2 separate regions of the Homo sapiens genome follow, and region 2 is linked to region 1. A link means that fine-mapping ties the variant in region 1 to the plasma level of a protein whose gene starts in the linked region. Region 1 holds a variant in brackets. A gene starts in the other region. All regions are shown on their reverse strands. Region 1 overlaps PCSK6 (proprotein convertase subtilisin/kexin type 6). Region 2 holds the start of ITPR1 (inositol 1,4,5-trisphosphate receptor type 1).

What was found. A credible set is the group of variants that fine-mapping cannot tell apart. PIP is the chance, under the fine-mapping model, that this variant and not a neighbour inherited with it causes the effect. The UK Biobank Pharma Proteomics Project read protein levels with antibody pairs (Olink). The fine-mapping took linkage between variants from a reference panel, not from the people measured, so its PIPs are less certain.
Region 2: ITPR1 starts here. The variant in region 1 is the best candidate, but not a certain one, in a credible set for the plasma level of the ITPR1 protein (UK Biobank, PIP 0.53).

What each region holds. Positions count from the first base shown.
Region 1 is chr15:101,446,378-101,455,166 of GRCh38, reverse strand. All of the region lies in intron 1 of PCSK6 (proprotein convertase subtilisin/kexin type 6), which reads left to right. Among named protein-coding and RNA genes, the nearest start is that of PCSK6, 39 kb to the left of the region's middle. RefSeq lists enhancers at 2,109-2,403, 3,420-4,153. The variant T/C (reference allele first, on the strand shown) is at 4,061.
Region 2 is chr3:4,489,580-4,498,368 of GRCh38, reverse strand. It overlaps ITPR1 (inositol 1,4,5-trisphosphate receptor type 1), which reads right to left and starts at 5,021. Exons shown (of 62, transcript NM_001378452.1): 1 at 4,764-5,021; 2 at 3,863-3,938. It overlaps ITPR1-DT (ITPR1 divergent transcript), which reads left to right and starts at 5,206. Exons shown (of 2, transcript NR_108075.1): 1 at 5,206-5,585; 2 at 7,001-8,052. RefSeq lists silencers at 3,090-3,384, 4,683-4,952.

The sequences.
Region 1 (8,789 bases):
TTGTTTGTTTGTTTGCTGTGGTCAAATACACATAATAGAAAATATATCATCTTACCTGTTTGTAAGTGTATAGTTTGGGGCATTTAGTATTTTCACGTTGTTATGCAACCATCACCACTGTCCATCTCCAGAACTTTTTTATTTTCTCAGACTGAAACTCTGTACCCTTTTATTTATTTATTTATTCATTCATTCATTCATTCATTCATTCATTCATTTTTTGAGATGGAGTCTCACTCTGTTGCCCAGGCTGGACTGCAGTGGTGTGATCTTGGCTCACTGCAACCTCCGCCTCCTGGGTTCAAGCGATTCTCCTGCCTCAGCCTCCCAAATAGCTGGGATTACAGGTGCACGCCACCATACCCGGCTAATTTTTGTATTTTTGGTAGAGGCGGGGTTTCACGCTGTTGGCCAGGCTGGTCTCTAACTCCTGACCTCATGTGATCTGTCCACCTGCCTCGGCCTCCCAAAGTGCTGGAATTACAGGCAGAAGCCACTGTGCCTGGCCTGAAACTCTGTACCCTTTACACACCAACTCCCCACTCCTCCCTCCCCCACAGCCCCTGGCAACCACATTCTGTCTCTATGAATTTGGCCATTCCAGGTACCGCATACAGGGAGAATCGTTCAGTATTCGTCCTTAGTGCCTGGCTCATTTCACTGAGCACAGCGTCCTCCAGGCTCATCTGTGTTGTAGCATGCATCAGAGTTTCCTCCCTTTTTCAGGCTGAGCCATATTCCATCGTGTGTCCCTGCCAGGTTTTGTCGATCCACTCAACCAGCCACAGACACCTGGGTTGCTCCCACCCCTTGGCTTTTGTGGAAAATGCTGCTGTGAACACGGGTATGCAGATATTTGTTCAGAACCCCGTTTTCACATCTTCGGGTACAGGAGGTATATATTTTTAAGTGAAAATTTGAAGATTAATTTTTCTAGAATTCCTTTTGATTTCCCTTGGGATAACTTGCTCTCAAGTGATGGTGTTTTAGGTATTAAAATGTGAATTTCCAACATGTCTTTCATAAAGACAAAATCTTATTTTTAAAAACCTTGTAGCCTCCTCCAACATGACCTCCCTTGGCCAAGTAGCCATGAGCTGCAGCCCAGCACTGACCCTTCTTTCTGGGGAGTCCAGGAGGGGGCCTGGCAGGAGCCAGACGGGCTCCCCCTGACTGCCTTGGGTGCTCAGTGTAGTTTGTTCTCTGATCCATGATGTAAGCAGCGTGCCCAGGTGTGCTGTGCACAGCCTTTGGTGCTCAAGGTCACAGACACAGTCCACTCTTCACGAGCAGAGCTGCCCTATGCTGAGAGTAGACCTGGACTCGTACCGGAGCCTCTCTCCCCTGGCAAATTCTCTAGATGAGACTTTCTTGAGGATAAGGCACCCCCTACTTCTCGCATACTCAGAAAGAAAAAAGTAAACAGTGGGCCTCCTCAAGTTGGGAAAGTCTCAACCAAATGTCTCGATCCCCACTTTCCAGGCGACAGGCTGCCTGTAGCCTGCAGGCATGTGTTAGGCAGGCTACACAGTGGTGGTAACATGTACAATGAGTTGCCATTATTAAAAACTCGGGAGAGCGCATGTCGGATCCAAATGCTGGCTTCTCTGGAAGAGTTCAGGAGATCTCGCAGTTCTGGGTTCCTGGAGCCTCCGCAGGCTCACCTCCTCCCTGACATGGGGTCCCAGGCTGGGCCCTGTGGGCATCGGGGGTACCTCACCCAACTAGAGAGGCCAAACATGGCACAGGGAAGTTAGCGAGCAGCAGGGAGATGTGGCTCAAATCCATTCCCACTAACACATCAGCTGCACAGGGGCAGCCTGCGGGGAGCAGGGGCGTGTGCTCTGCCTGGGGGTGAGGTATGGGCCCTGGGCACATGGGGCAGGGCCAGGCCTCAAGCAGCCTCCCTACCCCAGAGGTCACCTGCCCTTGAAATACACCTCATTTTCTGTCTCTTTTACAAAATAATTCCTGGATCCCACGGGCCCTCCTTTGATGGGAGGAAGGAATGGGGCAGCTCTGAGAAGCAGTCTGTCGCCGCTTCTCAGCATGGGGTTAGAGAAAGAGTTTTGTCTTCAGTTTAGACCATACATTCTTTAAGCTTTATTTGGGAAAGGGGCTAAAAGGTCTGGTTACCTTGTTTTATTACAATTAAAAATTTCTTTTACAATTTTTTGAAACAATCACAAACTTACAGAAAAATTGAATGCACAGGGCAAAGCTCAACTGACCCAGCGCAGAGAACCTGGTGACCCCGGCCCCGCCAGCCCCAGTGCTCCAGTGTGTCCTTTGCATAAACAAGGACTGTGTCTGCAGAGCCGTGCAGCACAGCCATGGACACCGGGGAATTCCACCGGTCTTTATCAGTTGTAAGGGCCCCTAATGTAGTAACATGTTCCATCTGTGCTCTGTGGGTAACCAATCTGCCATGTCCTGTGTCTTCACTTTCCCTGAGTGGGCAGCCTGGTTATCTGCCTGGACTGACATCTGGAGTAGCCTGTTCCCACCCGTAGCCCCACGGGCTCGATTCCACGTTCCCCCATGTGAGCGCCCTCCTCACCTTCTGAGTTGCAGCAGTGCCTTGTTCTGGGCCACCCCGGATCTTCCCACCCCACACACACCATGTTCTTCCCCATATGATGACTTTAGACTGGAATTTTTCAGGAAAAAGAAGAGTTTTACAGCTTATCTTAAAATTAAAACAAAACAAAACAAAAATGAATACTCAAGAGGCATTGGATTTAGGAATCCGGTAAAACAACTAATTCCAGACAGCCGTAAAGAAACCTGCAACCAGGAAATGATTTAAAATGGAGATCTTCAAAGTCAGGATTGTAGTTTTTTCAGGTAGCTTTTTGTAGACCTTGAAAATATAGGCCGAGACCACATGTAGAAATTAAACGTTCTCATCCGAAGCCGGACCATTTGGTTTGGCGACTTAAGGGAAGAGAAAAATGAAGTTTGCTAAGTAAGAATTAATGATTTCTCAGGAATTTTTAGGATGTTGAACAGCTTAATTGCATAGTTTGGGTGGATATGTGTTGAAGAAAGTAATTTTAGGAGACTGGGAAATTGTGCAATCATCTTAACTTGGGTCAGGATTGTAATTATTGCAATAACAGAATGTTGCTATGTGTATATGTGACTGAAATGGGAAGCAGTTTTTAAAAAATGCTTTAAGAAATAACAACAAAATGTCCATTCTCTCTCTCTCTTTCTGGACTTCCTTAATTATAAATACCAGGTAATCCAGTGCTGGCTAAATATAGGTCCAGTGGTCATCTATATTTATAACGTTTTTTTCAGGCGGAAGTCACTAGAGCAATACAGAATTAATTTGGTGTGTAGGTTTTTATAGAGTCTAATTAGTTGTGTTTTTCTTAAGCAAACCAACCGGGATCAATAACATTATATAACTGAACTCGGACGACCATGACTTTTAGACATAGACTCTTCCCAGAAAGCCAAGGCCCTCGGCAGATGCCGGCCCTGAAGACAGACAAGCGGCTCCGGAAGCAGGCACGCTGCAGCTGCGGAGCGGACGGGGTTTGGAACATCTGTTTCCAGCCAAGGGCAGGCTTTGGGAGTGATAAAGTACAGTTTTTTTTTGCAAAGTCAGAAGCCTCATCTGCAGTCCATTCATCACTGAGGCCTTGAATTGAGACATTCTGTGGCTGCTTATCAGCTGTTCCCGTGTGGAAGGGTTTGGCTGGGCTGGCCTGGGGAGGTGGGGTGGGGATTTTGCAGACTTACCAAAGTATGCGCTTAGCCGACCCACCCCCACCAACAACGCAGCCTGCTCGAGGGCTACGAACTGCACCTGTGTCTGCAGTCACGTCCATTGGAGAGCTGAGTGGGCGGGTGGACCTTTGGAACTATTTGATGTCATTTGGGGTAGATTCGGCGTGCTTCTCGGTGACTTTGCTGCAAATTAAACATGTAAAGTAGATTGGGCTTTCCTCCTCCATTCCTCAGGATCTTCAAAAAACATTTAGTCTTTTCTGGCAGAGTGAACCCGAGCTGGCAGCGCCCACTGAGATTTTGTTTGAAGCCAGCTACA[T/C]TCACATTTAAAGAAACGACATGATGGGGGAGGCCCTTTCTGTAAACCCCAAGCCAGGCCTTTCCCCTCGTGAGGGTTCCTACCCCTCCCTTGTGTGGCCCTGCAAGCCGCTTCTGCTTGTCCACACCTGCGCCCGAGAGTTCTTCTCATGGCTGGTGCGTGCCATGAATGAAGGGCACTGGCCAGTGGAAGGGAGTGCCCGGCCAGGCCTTGCCTGCCTCAAGTCCTCAGACCAGAGAGGCCAGTGGGGGTCTTGCCCAGACCATACAGCCGGGAGGTGGTCTGCCTGGCTCCATAGCCTCCTCCCGACCTCACAGCTGTCCTGGGACGGGGACTGAGAGAGAGCTCAAAGACAGGACAGCAGAGCCCGGGCCAGAAGGCACTGGGGGCATGCTCACCCCACCTCTGGATGCGGGGCCTCACTGGACAGCTGGACACAGATGGGATGGGGGGAGACCTGTGTATCCTCCCAATGTCATTTGGAGACAGAAGTCTGTTCATTTCATCAGGCAGATTTCAAGCTCCTCTGTGTTCCAGACACAGCCAGGCCCTGAGAATTGACAGACAACATAGCTCCTGCCCTTGAAGGCTTATGGTGGAGGGAGGGAGGACAAAGGGTGTCATAGCCATGTCTGGGCATACAGGGCCTGGGAGGCCTGAGAGGGCTTCCTGGAGTCAGTGACAGCCGAGGGGATGGTTAAAAGCAGAGTAGGAGTTGAGGGGACTTGAGCGAGCACAGGGGTGTGAAACGGTGTGTGAGGGCAGGGCCCCTTACACTGGATGACAGAGGGCAGTGTGGGCAGGGCCAGGCCTGTGGCTGGAGAGGGGTCCTGGCTGGTCGTGTATTCTCCGAGACAAGGAGGAGTCAGGGTGGGAGTGTCAGTGCGGTGGTACGGGAGAGACTAAGAGGCCAGCGAGGGTCCAAGCAGAGGGGTGGGGCTGCCTGCACTAGGGCTGGTGCGATGAGGGGAGCGGGTTTGGGAGCCATTAAGAGCCCCCTTTGGGAAGGTTTGGTGGTGGCTTTTACCAAGACAAGGAACGCCTCAGGAGGAGAGGTTTGGGGTGCAGGATGGCGAGGGTGCAGTGTTGTTGATGCTGCTCTGGCGTGGTGGAAGTTATGTGCTGACCTAGGGGTCCTGCCAGGAGCCAGTGGATAAAGATGGTGCAGATCCGGCCCAGCCCCTGGAGGACTCAGCCATTATGGGGCCACGTGCTTGGGACCCCCTTAGGCGGGAGAGGCTCCCCAGAGGAGATGATGCTGAGCTGAGCCTGGAAGGACCCAGGATTGGTTGGCAGGAAATGAAGAAACAGCCTTCTGGGCCTGTCTTCTCGGTATCTCATGCAGTTCCTGGATACAGCTCAGCTTCTCCCGCAGAGGATTTCAGAACCCACCTCCCCAGTGGCTGTTCAGACCTCTGGAACCAGAACGTCCATCTGGGGCCAAGCCCCCACCCACATGGGGTTGCTCAAGCTACTCAGGTGAAGCTGACATGTACGAAGGTGGCGAGCCATAGATCTGGAGTTCTGAGTTAGGGCAACCCAGCAGTGGCCCCAGGAGGCTCACTCGGATGTGAGAACTGTGGGAAAACCAAGGACCTACCTGGTATGTTTCAGAGTCATTTGTTTATGAACCTTACATAAACACACACACCTGGATATGTATATACACGTGTATATGCACAGATACACACACACGCCTGAATACATATGCAGTTGGCTGTCTTTATCCACGGGTTCCACATCTACACATTCAACCAACCTCAGGTCAAAAACATGAAAAAAAAATGTATGGTGGATGTAGAAACTATTTTCTTGTCATTTTTCCTTAAACAATATGGTATAACAACTATTTCCACAGCATTTACATTGTATTAGGTATTATAAGTAGTCTAAAGATGATTTAAAGTATTGGAGGATGTGTGTAGGTTGTATGCAAATATGATGCCATTTTATATCAGGGACTTGAGCATCTGTGGATTTTGGCATCTGCAGGGTGGCCTGGAACCAGCCCCCCACGGATGCCAAGGCATGACTGTATACATATATATACATCTGTATACAAACACTTGCACATCCATATACATATGCACACACACACACCGGCATACGTATATACACGTGTATACAACACTCACACATTCTATACATCCACACATATGCACACACACTCGTATACAGACATAATGGAATAATATGTACCTGAAACATAATATAGGCCTCCCATGATTTCCTTATTGAAATGAAGGAAAGTGCACACATGCTGAGGGTACTGGTTCTCTGGGAAAGAACCTGCCGCAAAGGACAAGGACCAAGGTGCCTGAAATTCCCCATGGTAACTAACAATCTTAACCATGCCGAGAGGCAGAAGGTTCAACGGTGAAGAATCCTGACTGTTCATTGACTAAATGAATCTTGAACAGTTTCACTGCTCTGTGCCTCAGTTTCCCCATCAGTCAGATGAGGATGGTCATAACATCTACTCCCTACAGTTGTTATGAAAATGAAGCTTATTAATTCATCTGAACTCCAAGCTTGCTGCCTGGAATGGGGCATGTGCCCAGCAAGCGTCAGCTGTTGTAATGAGCCAGGGGCACTCGGTAATAGTGAGGATCCCTGGCTGGGGGACAGGTGAAGGAGGGGGAATTGCTGTTCCCCACTAACTCTGTACCCTTTTGTACCTTCCATGTTTTGTATCATGTGCACATATTACCTATATTTTTTTAAATGTCAGAGCATCTTGTTAAAGAGGATTACACTACATTAAACTCTCTTCACTGTGAGTTCTTTGATCTCATTCCTTCCAGTGTTCTGGTCAAGAACATTTAGCAAGGTTTGTAATGATGTTCTAATGATGTTATCAGTTTGATCAAGTAATGCATATAATCGCCTATCAACGTTGAGTAAAGAAACATGAGCACCCTGTATTCAGCAAATTGTTTATTTTCTTGAATGGTGCATGAGACGGGCTCTAATTAATTCATTGTGAAGATACCACGGGCACCAAAGAGAACAAGAACGTATTTAAATTTCATGTTATGACATTACAAAGACAATGCCTTGTGGACTAGCAGTCAGATTCATTGATGAAGAGCAGATGGAGGTCAGGGGAGGACACGGGGCTGAGCAGGACTGGGACGCAGCCTGGGATGGTGGAGGCAGCGCCTCCCTTCTATAATCGAGGGAAGGAGGAGGAGGCTGCCAGGGCCCTCCGATAGCGGCAGTCCGTGGAAGCCACCGCTCCTGATTCTAAAGGCGGGCTGCTCAGGCACCGGCTGGAGAAGCGGTGCGTAGTCGATGAGCTGTGAGCACGGGAGCAGAGCCAGCGCCTGGTGTGGACACCGTCCGAGGCCACAGCCAAGCAGCAGCCACCCAGGACGTCCAGGCTGCTGAGCAGGGAGGAACACCTGCCATCAGGGCAAATGCCACATAAAAAAAGAACCTCACTTTACCTGGAAGATTATTTGGAATTTTGTCTTTAGGCCGCCCCCTTCCTGAGTCCACCGCTGTCCATTTGACCCTGAAGAGGTCCTAAAAGTGTGGCAGTCATCTTAAACCCTACTCGTGTATCTGTATGTCATTTAGTATCAAATTTTGTCACCTGCTTGTCTGTGAGCAGAATGGGGAGGCTGCTGGTTTAGGAACTGGGAGCCCCACAGTGTGACATAGTCTTAACCTCCCTGGGCCTCAGTATACTCATCTGTGAAATGGGGACATCTCTGTGGGTCCTTGTCACACCCTAATCTGTGAGTCAGGGCCAGAGGGCAGCCAGGTGTCCTTCATGTTCAACCAGGCCAGTGGCCACATCCCCACAGGTGACCCTGCGTGAGCCTGGGGGCCTCACAGCCTGGCATCCTGTCCCCCTTCCCCATGAAGGCACCCAGAGATGTGAAGGAACAGCCTCCCTCACTGGGGAGGGGCAGAACCTCCTCGTACCTGGGGTGGACCCTGCTGTGGTAGGTCAGATGAGAAGCCTAGAAGGGCTTAGGTGGGTGGGGAGGACGAGAGACAGCAATGGCTGTATCATAAACGCAGCATCATCCGGGCCGACGAGACTTTCAATGGGCCTGTGTTCCTGGGCAGCTGCTCCTGCCTCCTGCTGTGTCACCTTTGATTCTCTCACTGGTTTTGCCCGTGATGAAAACCTCACACTCCTGACCTGGTGCCTGATGTTGCAAAGGGAGGGCAGAGGGCAGGACCACATGAGTCAGACAGAAGGACGGGGCCTCTTGGAGCATCTGACAAGGTTTATGGAAAAAGCACGTCTCAGAGACTCAATGAGATGCTGAAGGTCTAGGCTTGCAGCCGCACCTGTGTTTGAGTCACTCCGTGTATGGACCGCCACTTCCCAGCCCTAGAGAACCCTTGCTTGACATCAGAGACTTTGGTGAACTCCCCTGATACTCTCAGCAGCAAATGCTGTACATCACAGGCTGGCAGCCTTTTCTGTTTCAGAGTTCACATATGAACTCTTTGATCCTCGTGGGCTCTAGGGTCTCTGTTGCAACCACTCAGCTCTGCTATTGTAGTAGGAAGGCAGCCATGAACAGTAGGGAAAGGGTGGGTGTGGCTATGTTCCAAGAAAATTTATCAAAAAACGGTAGGTGGATATATACCCAAAAGAATTGAAAGCAGGGACACGAGCAGATATTTGTACACAGCAGCATTATTCCCAGCAGCCAAGCAGTGGGAGTAATCCACGTGTCCATAAATAGATGAATGAATAAACAAA
Region 2 (8,789 bases), not on the chromosome of region 1:
CTCTGACATTTGGAACACACTTTTTCCCTGACAGCTACAGGGTCAACTCGTTTGCCTCCTTCAGATCTGTGCTGAGATGTCATGTAGTAAAGATCTAATCCCCACCTGAGTACTCCCTTAATACCCCTCATCATGTTTTGTTGCTTTTTAAAATTACTGTAAAATATACATAACATAAAATATACCACTTTGAAATGTTATAACTCAGTGGCACTAAGTACATTCACACTGTTGTGTGACATCACCACCATCCATTTCCAGAACTTTTTCATCTTTCCAAACTGAAACTCTATCCTCAATAAACACTAACTCCCCCTTCCTGTCTTCTATCTCCCCCAGCAATCCCCATTCTACTTTCTGTCTGCAGGGATCTGACTACTCTAGATGCCTCTATAAGAAAAATCATAAAATATGTGTCCTTTTATTTCTGGCTTGTTTCACTTAGCATGTTTTCAAGGTTCATCCACATTGTAGCATGTGTCAGAATTCCCTTTTTAAGGCTGAATAATATTCCATTGTATGTATATTTCACATTTTATCTGTTCATTCATCAGTAGACTTGTGTTGTTTCTACCTTTTGGCTACTGTGATAATGCTTCTACTGACACAGGTGTACAAATATCTGCTCACGTCCCTACTTTCAATTTTTTAAAGTATATACCTTGAAGTGGAATTGCTGGGACATATAGTAATTTTATGTTTAATTTTTTTTAGTAACTGCCATGCTGTTTTCCACAGCAGCTTCACCATTTTACATTCCCACCGGCAATGCACAAGGGATCTAATTTCTCCACTTGTTATTTTCTGTTCCCCCTTTAACCAGTTTTCTTTTTCTCCATAGCTTTTACTACCTCTAATACTATAATACTTACTTGTTTATTTATATTGGCTGCCTCCCACCAACTGAGATGTAAGCCTCTTGGGAACGGGATGGTTTGTTCATTGCTATATCCTGAGCACCTGGAATACATCTTAGTACATAGCAGGTGCTCAAGAAATTTGTTGAATAAAGAATAAAACATTTGAATCGCACACAACTTGAACAGGTCTTAGAGTCTGTTAAATAGATTTACCACACCATGTGCCTTAAACTACATCCAATTTAGAAATCTCAAAGTTGAATGGGTGACGGTTTCAGTGGTGTATCTGGCTTATTCTCATTAGCAATCATCTCAGAACCACAGAAACCAAGAGAATTGTAAGGAATCATAGAAGTTATGTCATTCACATCACCGACTTCAAGCCTTAATTGCATTCATCAATTGAGCTATGCACAAACTTAAAACAGCAAAAATGGAAAAAAAAAAAACTGCATGGACTTCTGGTTAACAGACAGCCTGCAAATGCAATGTGTTTTATTTTTAAAAATCAAACCAATAGTAAACAAGATAGACACTGGCCCTGTGGAGACTCCTTAATTAGATGTAGCCAAAGACAGCTTGACCTAGAAACCTAACTCCAGGCCTACTTTTATTTTGGCTGTTTTTTTCTGTTGTTCATATTTGGTGTTTGTTTTATTTTTGTTTGTTTTCTAAGAGCTGCTCATGAAGAAATCAGACAGTTTCCATGATATCTTTATAAATGAGTTGAAAAGCCATGTGATATTCCCCCCTCTGGAAGTCAGTTGGTTGCACACCATTGGATTAAAGGTTTCTTTTTTATCTTTCTCTCTGCCCACTCTCCTCCCTCCCCGCAATACCAACACCCTGATCTTCCTCACTTAAAAATATTTTGAAGAAAAGACTCTTGATCTTTCTGTGGAGTTCATCTATCTCTTTTTTTCTAAGCAACCATTCCACTTCTCATTCCTAAAGAAAAGATGCCAATTCCCTCCAAAAGACAATCACTTGGTTTAAATAGATACCATTGTCAACCCCAAATGACTTTCATGGGTCTCAAGGCAAGAGCCAGAGTAATTCACTTAGAACATGAAGAACTTTCCCTGCCTGATAAGAATGATATCTTGAAAGGATTTTCTGTTCTGATTTGAATTATTCAAAGAGCAGATTGTACTTTCAGTGTACATATGCATACACACACACACACACACACATGAACTTGAAAGAAAAAATGGAGAACAAAAACGTCTGCACAACTGGCTGCAAAGCAAACTGGAAGGTATATGAAAAGGTATCAACATTTCACATTGCAGTCTAACTGCAGTTTAAACTTTCGAATTATTCAGATGGGGAAACGCCTGATCCTTTTAACCTACTCAGATTCTTTGATGTAAACAATCAAGATGTATTTCAGCTAGGAGGTGAGCCTAATGCTTAACTTACATAATGTTCCTTGTGGTTTTGTTTCTTTTTACTCTCCCCATTCAGGCTTTCCAAAATGAACTCATTACAGTATCTAATACCTCCTCAAATATCTGCACTCTTTTATCCCTATGTTTGTGGCTACATCCTTTCCTTCTTACATCAATGTTATGTATTATTTCATCATTGGTGGGAGGTATGCAAGTTATTTCATCAGTAGCAGTAAGTTTACCATTTTTCCTAGCTTCCCTCTCACCACCAGCATCCCCAAATCAACTGAGGTCCATTTGTGGGATGCAGTACAGCCTCACCGCCTGAGGTTACACCCTGCTCCTACTTTGTACTAGCTACTGGGCAAGTGATTTCACTCTCTGCACCTCAGTTTCTTCACCTGCATCTGACGCACAGGGTTTCTGAGATACATGGCTCTGGACCTGGCTTACAAGTACTTAATGTGTCCATCTTATTATTTTTAGCAACCAGTTAGAAAAGAGTCTGTGGACCAGTTTTTCCTTGCTGTACAGCTAATTCTGAAAAGGGGAACTGGGCCTAATCCTTGGCTCTATGAGCACCCACACAGCCATGTGAGTCAACAGAACTCCAAGAAGAAACTAGAGTTCTCACATCCAAATGCTTCTCACTCCGCCAGTACTCCTGAGGATCTTATCAACAGGAAACAAAAGCACTATACCACTATAATGAAGTGTCTGACTTTTATTTTCTCATTAGAAAAGCCCAAAGATTGTAGCCCAGGGAACAGCTAAATATTTAGAATGTTAAAAAAGTTATTAAGACCCAGCCACCCACCCCCACCTACCTCTGTTACCCTGTTATTTACCATGTTCCTGAACATTTCAGGAGAAAAAACTCCTGATAGCCAAATCTGCAGCAATAGTGATGTACGTGCACCCGTTGAAACCTCCCACTCTTCAAATGCAGTCTGACCATTTTGGGGAAAAAATAGGAACTGTTGTGTTTACAGATAAATGCTGCTCTCAGCTCATATTCCACCACGGGCCCCAAAACAACAGGGACCTGCCAGATTCCTTGACACTCAGGTGGCTTGAGTCAAGGGCTGGATGCTACCACCTTAAGCTTCAATAACTCACTTCCCTTTTTAAAGTTCTAATTCTTTCAACTTGCAGCAACCACTTTCATTTCTTGCAATCCAACCTACTCTGATTAAGCACACGTTCAAAATTAGAAAAGAGTGACTATTTCTTGAAGGAGAGAGGCAGTTAATACTGCTTACACATTTTGGCATATGAAATGCACTGTATCCTTCAGAATTTAAATCATCAGCATGCTTTTCAGACCGGCAATGGGCCGCCGTTTTATTGCTCCATTTAATGGCCTTTTCCCCTCCTCTCTCATAAACTTTCAGGCTCCTTCAATTCTCAGCTACTTCCAAGAAACGGACTGTCCACTGGACCTCTGCTCCCAAAAGCCCTCACCAAAGGCAGAGGCAAATTTTGAAGACTGAGCCACGGAGTTTCTTTTTCTTTCTTACTCCCCACCTCCTTGGCGGTTTAGATAGAACTTAAAATAGGCTTAGGACAAAAACTCATTATTGACTACAGCACTCAGGCTTCCACACTCACCTGACCTGGGTCAGGCACTCTGTTGCCAAAGCAAGCCCAGCGAGGGGTGCAAATCCTGCTCCTCTGTAGTCAGCTCCTAAATATTTAGAAAGAAAGAAGACTGAGTACCAGACCGCGGAAGATGAGCTCTAACAGAAATGCTCCAAATTACAAGTTTCCACCTTCTTTAGCCTCCTTCACTGGGGACAGCCCCCCCGCCCCCAAACTTGGTAGGCAGGTTGGTGGGATCGCTTGGGCGAAGATTCCAGGTAACTACGCTTACTTATTTCCAGGATGTAACTGACAATTGAGACTAGGCACGCACAAACTTCGAACGTGCGGGAGGCTGGAACTAAGGGAAGTGTTTGGCAGATCCCAAAGCACTTGTTTCCCGGCGAGAAGGCCAAGTATCCGAAGCCCGCATCCTCATTGGACATGAGCTTCGTCCACACTTCATCCCTCACCGCTTCTCCGGTTTTCTTCCGTTTTTAAAAACCCTCCCCACGGGGGGCCCCTACACATGCATTATTCTCCCAACCACGGAGCGCAAGAGAGGGATACATTTTTAGAAAGATTATTTCCTTGAGCAGACTCACATATGACACCCCCACAACCTCTCTTCAAAAAAAAAAAAAAAAAAAGAACTATTTCCTGCAGCTGCAGCAACAGTTTCCAACTTGGGGGAATGCCACATCAGACCAGAATGGGGAGCCCCCAAAGCCACGCACTAGAGTAGAGGATATTTGTTTTTTAAGCTTCAAATGAGCTCCCCCCAAAACAACTGCCCGCAGTAAAGGAACCCCCAAATGCATGCCAAGTGCATGCACATCCATCAAGATCTCCCCGAGAGCGGGGCAAAAACTTCTGCGCCCGGGGAGCCAGTGCCAACTCCCCGCGCCCTCTGCCCGGCCCCAGCCGCTACCTTGGTGCCCGGGGAGCCACGCCGGTTTGGGGGAGCAGGGCGAGGAGAGGGGTTAGCAGCCGCTGGGTAATCCCATGTCCGCGAAGAGGGAGCTCGTTCCGTTAGGATGGAAGCGGAACACCCACACCTCCTCTCGGCGTGCGCTTTCTCTCTCTCCACCCCCTGCCTCCTCCTCCACCACCACCTCCTCCTCCTCCTCTCCTCCCACCCCAGCGAGCTTGAGGAAACGCTTCAGCAGCACATCCACATGGTTACTGCACTTTAAAGCGGCTCCGGGTGGCTTATATAGGCCGGGAAGCTCCCTGGGCAATGTAGTCCAAGTAGCGGGTCGTGGCGGCGCCTGAGGCTGCGGGGAGGGACTACAAGTCCCAGAATCCCCTGGGCGCCCGGGCTGGGCCCTAAATAGACGCGTGCGGGGACAGGGGAGGGGCGTCCTGCGAGGCTTTCAGGCTGCTGAGCCTGTTCCTTGGCTGGGGTCGGTAGGGCTTGGAGCCAGCCGTTCAAAGTCACCCCTGGGAAGCGCCCGCAACCCTTGGGGACGCCTCTCCTCCGGCTGCCCCCCTTCCCTGGAATCCAGGTGTCACTGGGGCCGGGGAGGGGCTAGGAGCTCGGATTTCTGCTTTGGGAAGTTTTTACAAGCCCACCCTCCCCCTGCCTTGGTTCCCCGAGCCAAGAATTTCAGAAATCCGGGGCACAAAAACGCCAGTGTTTGCGGTCAAGGATTAAAGGCGCGAGGTGTCTTTATTTAATCTGCTCCGCCCTGCTCGGGTTTGCACGAGAAACCAAGCCTGGGAGCGACGGTCCACGCAAGCGGAGACACAGGCAAGTCGCGTGAGAGCACTTTTCTGAGCCCGAGTTGCTTGTCTTTTATCGCCCGTGAGGAGGTAAAGAAAGGCAGACCTCTCCGGTGCACAAATAAAGGAGCCGTGTTGTGACTTGCCGGCTCTGAGATTGGGAGGCAGAAAATAAATACAAACCGCGACCTCAGTCCTGACCGTACCTCTAGCAGCCCCTCTGCTCCTGGGAGCTGTAAATGCTTAAGTAAATAAACCGCAAACCAGAAAAATAAGGGCTTAGGAAAGAGCCGCTCACACAGAGATGCGCATCCAGGCGGGGCGCTCTCCAAGAGCTCCGAATGGGGCAAGGTGGGTTTCACCCGCTGCCAAGTAATGCCTGGGCTCCCGGGCTACACGCTGCTTAGGGCTCCGGCTTTTGCAAGGAGGGGAAGAGCTAAGCCCGGAGGCAGTCAGCCGACTGCCCTGTCTTGCCTCAAATGACGTATATTCATTCCTCAAACGTTTCCTGAGTGTTTACTAGGTGCCAGGCGCTGGGGCATAGTGGTGAGCCAAACGCATTATAGCATCCCAGACAGGCACTTCCTGACGCCGCCTAAAGATCTGTTATAACAATAGTAATAATAATGATAATAATCAATGGGGAGGCTGATTTTATTGAGCCCAGACCACATGCAGTTTTCATGCGTCATGCTATTGAGTTTTACCAACTGTAGGTATATTTATTATATCTATTTGGCAGGTGCACAATCCAGGGCTCAGAGAAATCAGGTAACTTCCCAAATGACCCCTCGAGTTAAGTGGTACAGCCTGGACTCCCGTTCCAGACTCTACGTGTATGAAACCCTTGTCTTTGGGGAAATCCACCGCCATTGCCTTAAATAGCCTCTCTCCCCATTTAGGAGCAGCCTCTGAGCCCTTGGGCAAGTCATTTTCATCTCTTTGCCCCAGTTTTGCCATCTGAAGGAAATTCTTATTAGAATATGTCTACTTTTTAGCAGGATTCCTTAATATAAAATCGAGTCTCATGAAACTTTAGGAACAAATTAGAGGAGAATCATAGCTAATAGTTATTACTGACATAATAATGCCAAAACGAATCATAATTATTGACACTTATTGGGTGAATGCCATGTGTCAGGCATTGGTCTAAACTCTTTCTGTATAGCACCTAATTAAATCCTATTAAGCCATTTTTTACTTATGAGAAAACTGAGGGGGGGCACAAAGCGATTAAATTACTTCCTCCAAAGTCACACAAATAGCTGAGTCTTGAACCCTGGTCCTAAACTACTAGTCTCCGCTACCTCCCCAATGTAAACATGTGCACTGTATTTGCCTGCTCAGATAAGCATTTAATGTCAGTCCAGGAAGGGGCAAAGCTCTTGAAATAGACAAAGTTTGTGTTCACGATATTCACTCCTGCCCTCCGTTCCCTGTCAGCATTATCCCCTGGTCACTGGACGCTGGGGTCTAGTGCCTAATACGTTAAGCTGCTTCTCCCCATCATCAAGAAACTGCCGCATCTGCCATATAAAGGAGATGTTTCTCATTCGCCCCCACTCATCTCTTCCCCCATGAAAACCTCTTCCATTTTCAAAGGATCTTCGGCTCTACTTTTCAAGCAAATTCAACAAATCAGTGTATGCCTGTGTAACTGGTAAATAGTGAAGGGTAATTATTTCATGTGCTTCTAACTCAGAAACAATGGAATATTAACAGCGGTTTTCTGAAGATCCAGTTGGACAATTTTCATTTTCATCATATAATGGACATTTATCTCCTACCTGCATTATCCACTGTCTTCCCTCGGAGACCACAAATTTCACTGAAGGCAGCATCTATGTCTTATTCATGCTTGTGCTCTCTACCTCCCCTGACCCAGAAGGACTTATTCTTCTTTCTGCACATTTTAGTAGATGTGTTAAAAAAAAAAAAAAAAAGTTTGTTAAGAAGATGTTTTAATGGAAGGTGTGTCAGGCATATGGCAGGATACATGACCATATTTTTGGAGCATGCAACACCTCGTAGCCCATCTCTATCATAGCCTATTTTCTCCGCCTGTATGTATGGATAATCCTATTCAACATTTTTAAGGTCTAGAAGCTGCTAGGTCACTAGAAAGTAATTTTGCTATGATGTGAAGAGGTTCTCTATGATGATGTATGACTGATAAATTATGATGATTAATGTCAGAATATAAGGGTCACTGCCTAACTCATTCTCTGTTATCAGTAGAGGGAAAGGAGCTGCTTTCTCTTCACTATTTTTTTCTAGAAGAATTTTCTATCCCTGTGTTTTCCAGTATAGTGACTACTAGCCATTTAGGCACGTAAGATGTGGCTAGTTCTGAGATGTGAAATAGATGTTAACACATTGAATTTCAAAGACTTAGTACAAAAAAAAGCAAAATATCTTAATTTGTATAGTGATTACATGTTGAAGTGGTAATATTTTGGATATTTGTGTTAAATAAAATAGATTATTAGAATTTATTTTACCTGCTTTTTCCTTTTTTAATATAGCTACTAGGAAATTAAAAATTACATGTATAGCTCATATCATATATTATGCAGCACTGATCTAGAAAACCAAGAATCTGATTCCCAGGATCACAATTCGAGATGATGACCAGCCCATTAAAATGGCCATTTATGACTTTGCCCTTGAAATGTTCATGCAGGGAACTACGAGGGCTTTGCAAGGTCAGTACAGTATCATAGACTGAGCAGAAGTCTGAAGAAAGTCCAAAACTAGCACTTGAGCCTACCCCCAGGGAAGACCTACAAATAGAAGCAGGTTTCATCAGCAGTACACAGCTGAAAACTCTAACTGAATTCATCTGCCTAGAAGCCCACCTCAAATGCTGCCCTGGTTAAGAGAGCAAGATAAGCTGGAGAAAGGAGGGATCGGAGAAAATGGTTTTGACACCCAGCTGTACCATTTATATCCTGTTTTGTTTTGTTTGATAAAGTGATACTAACAATCCTTGCCTTGTCAATCTCACTGGGTCAATGGGTCATAGGACATGAAAGGGCTTTGCAAACTCACCCTCGCTATACTAAAGTAAGAGAATATTATTGACAAGAATGGAGATAATGTTGATGCGTCCTGATACAGTACTCAGTTCCAAACCAAACTTCAGATTATTGGGGCAGCACTATTCCCAATTTTCTCTCAGGCATAAGATTTCAATTGCCTATGGAGTGTAATTGGATTGTGACTCAAAGAA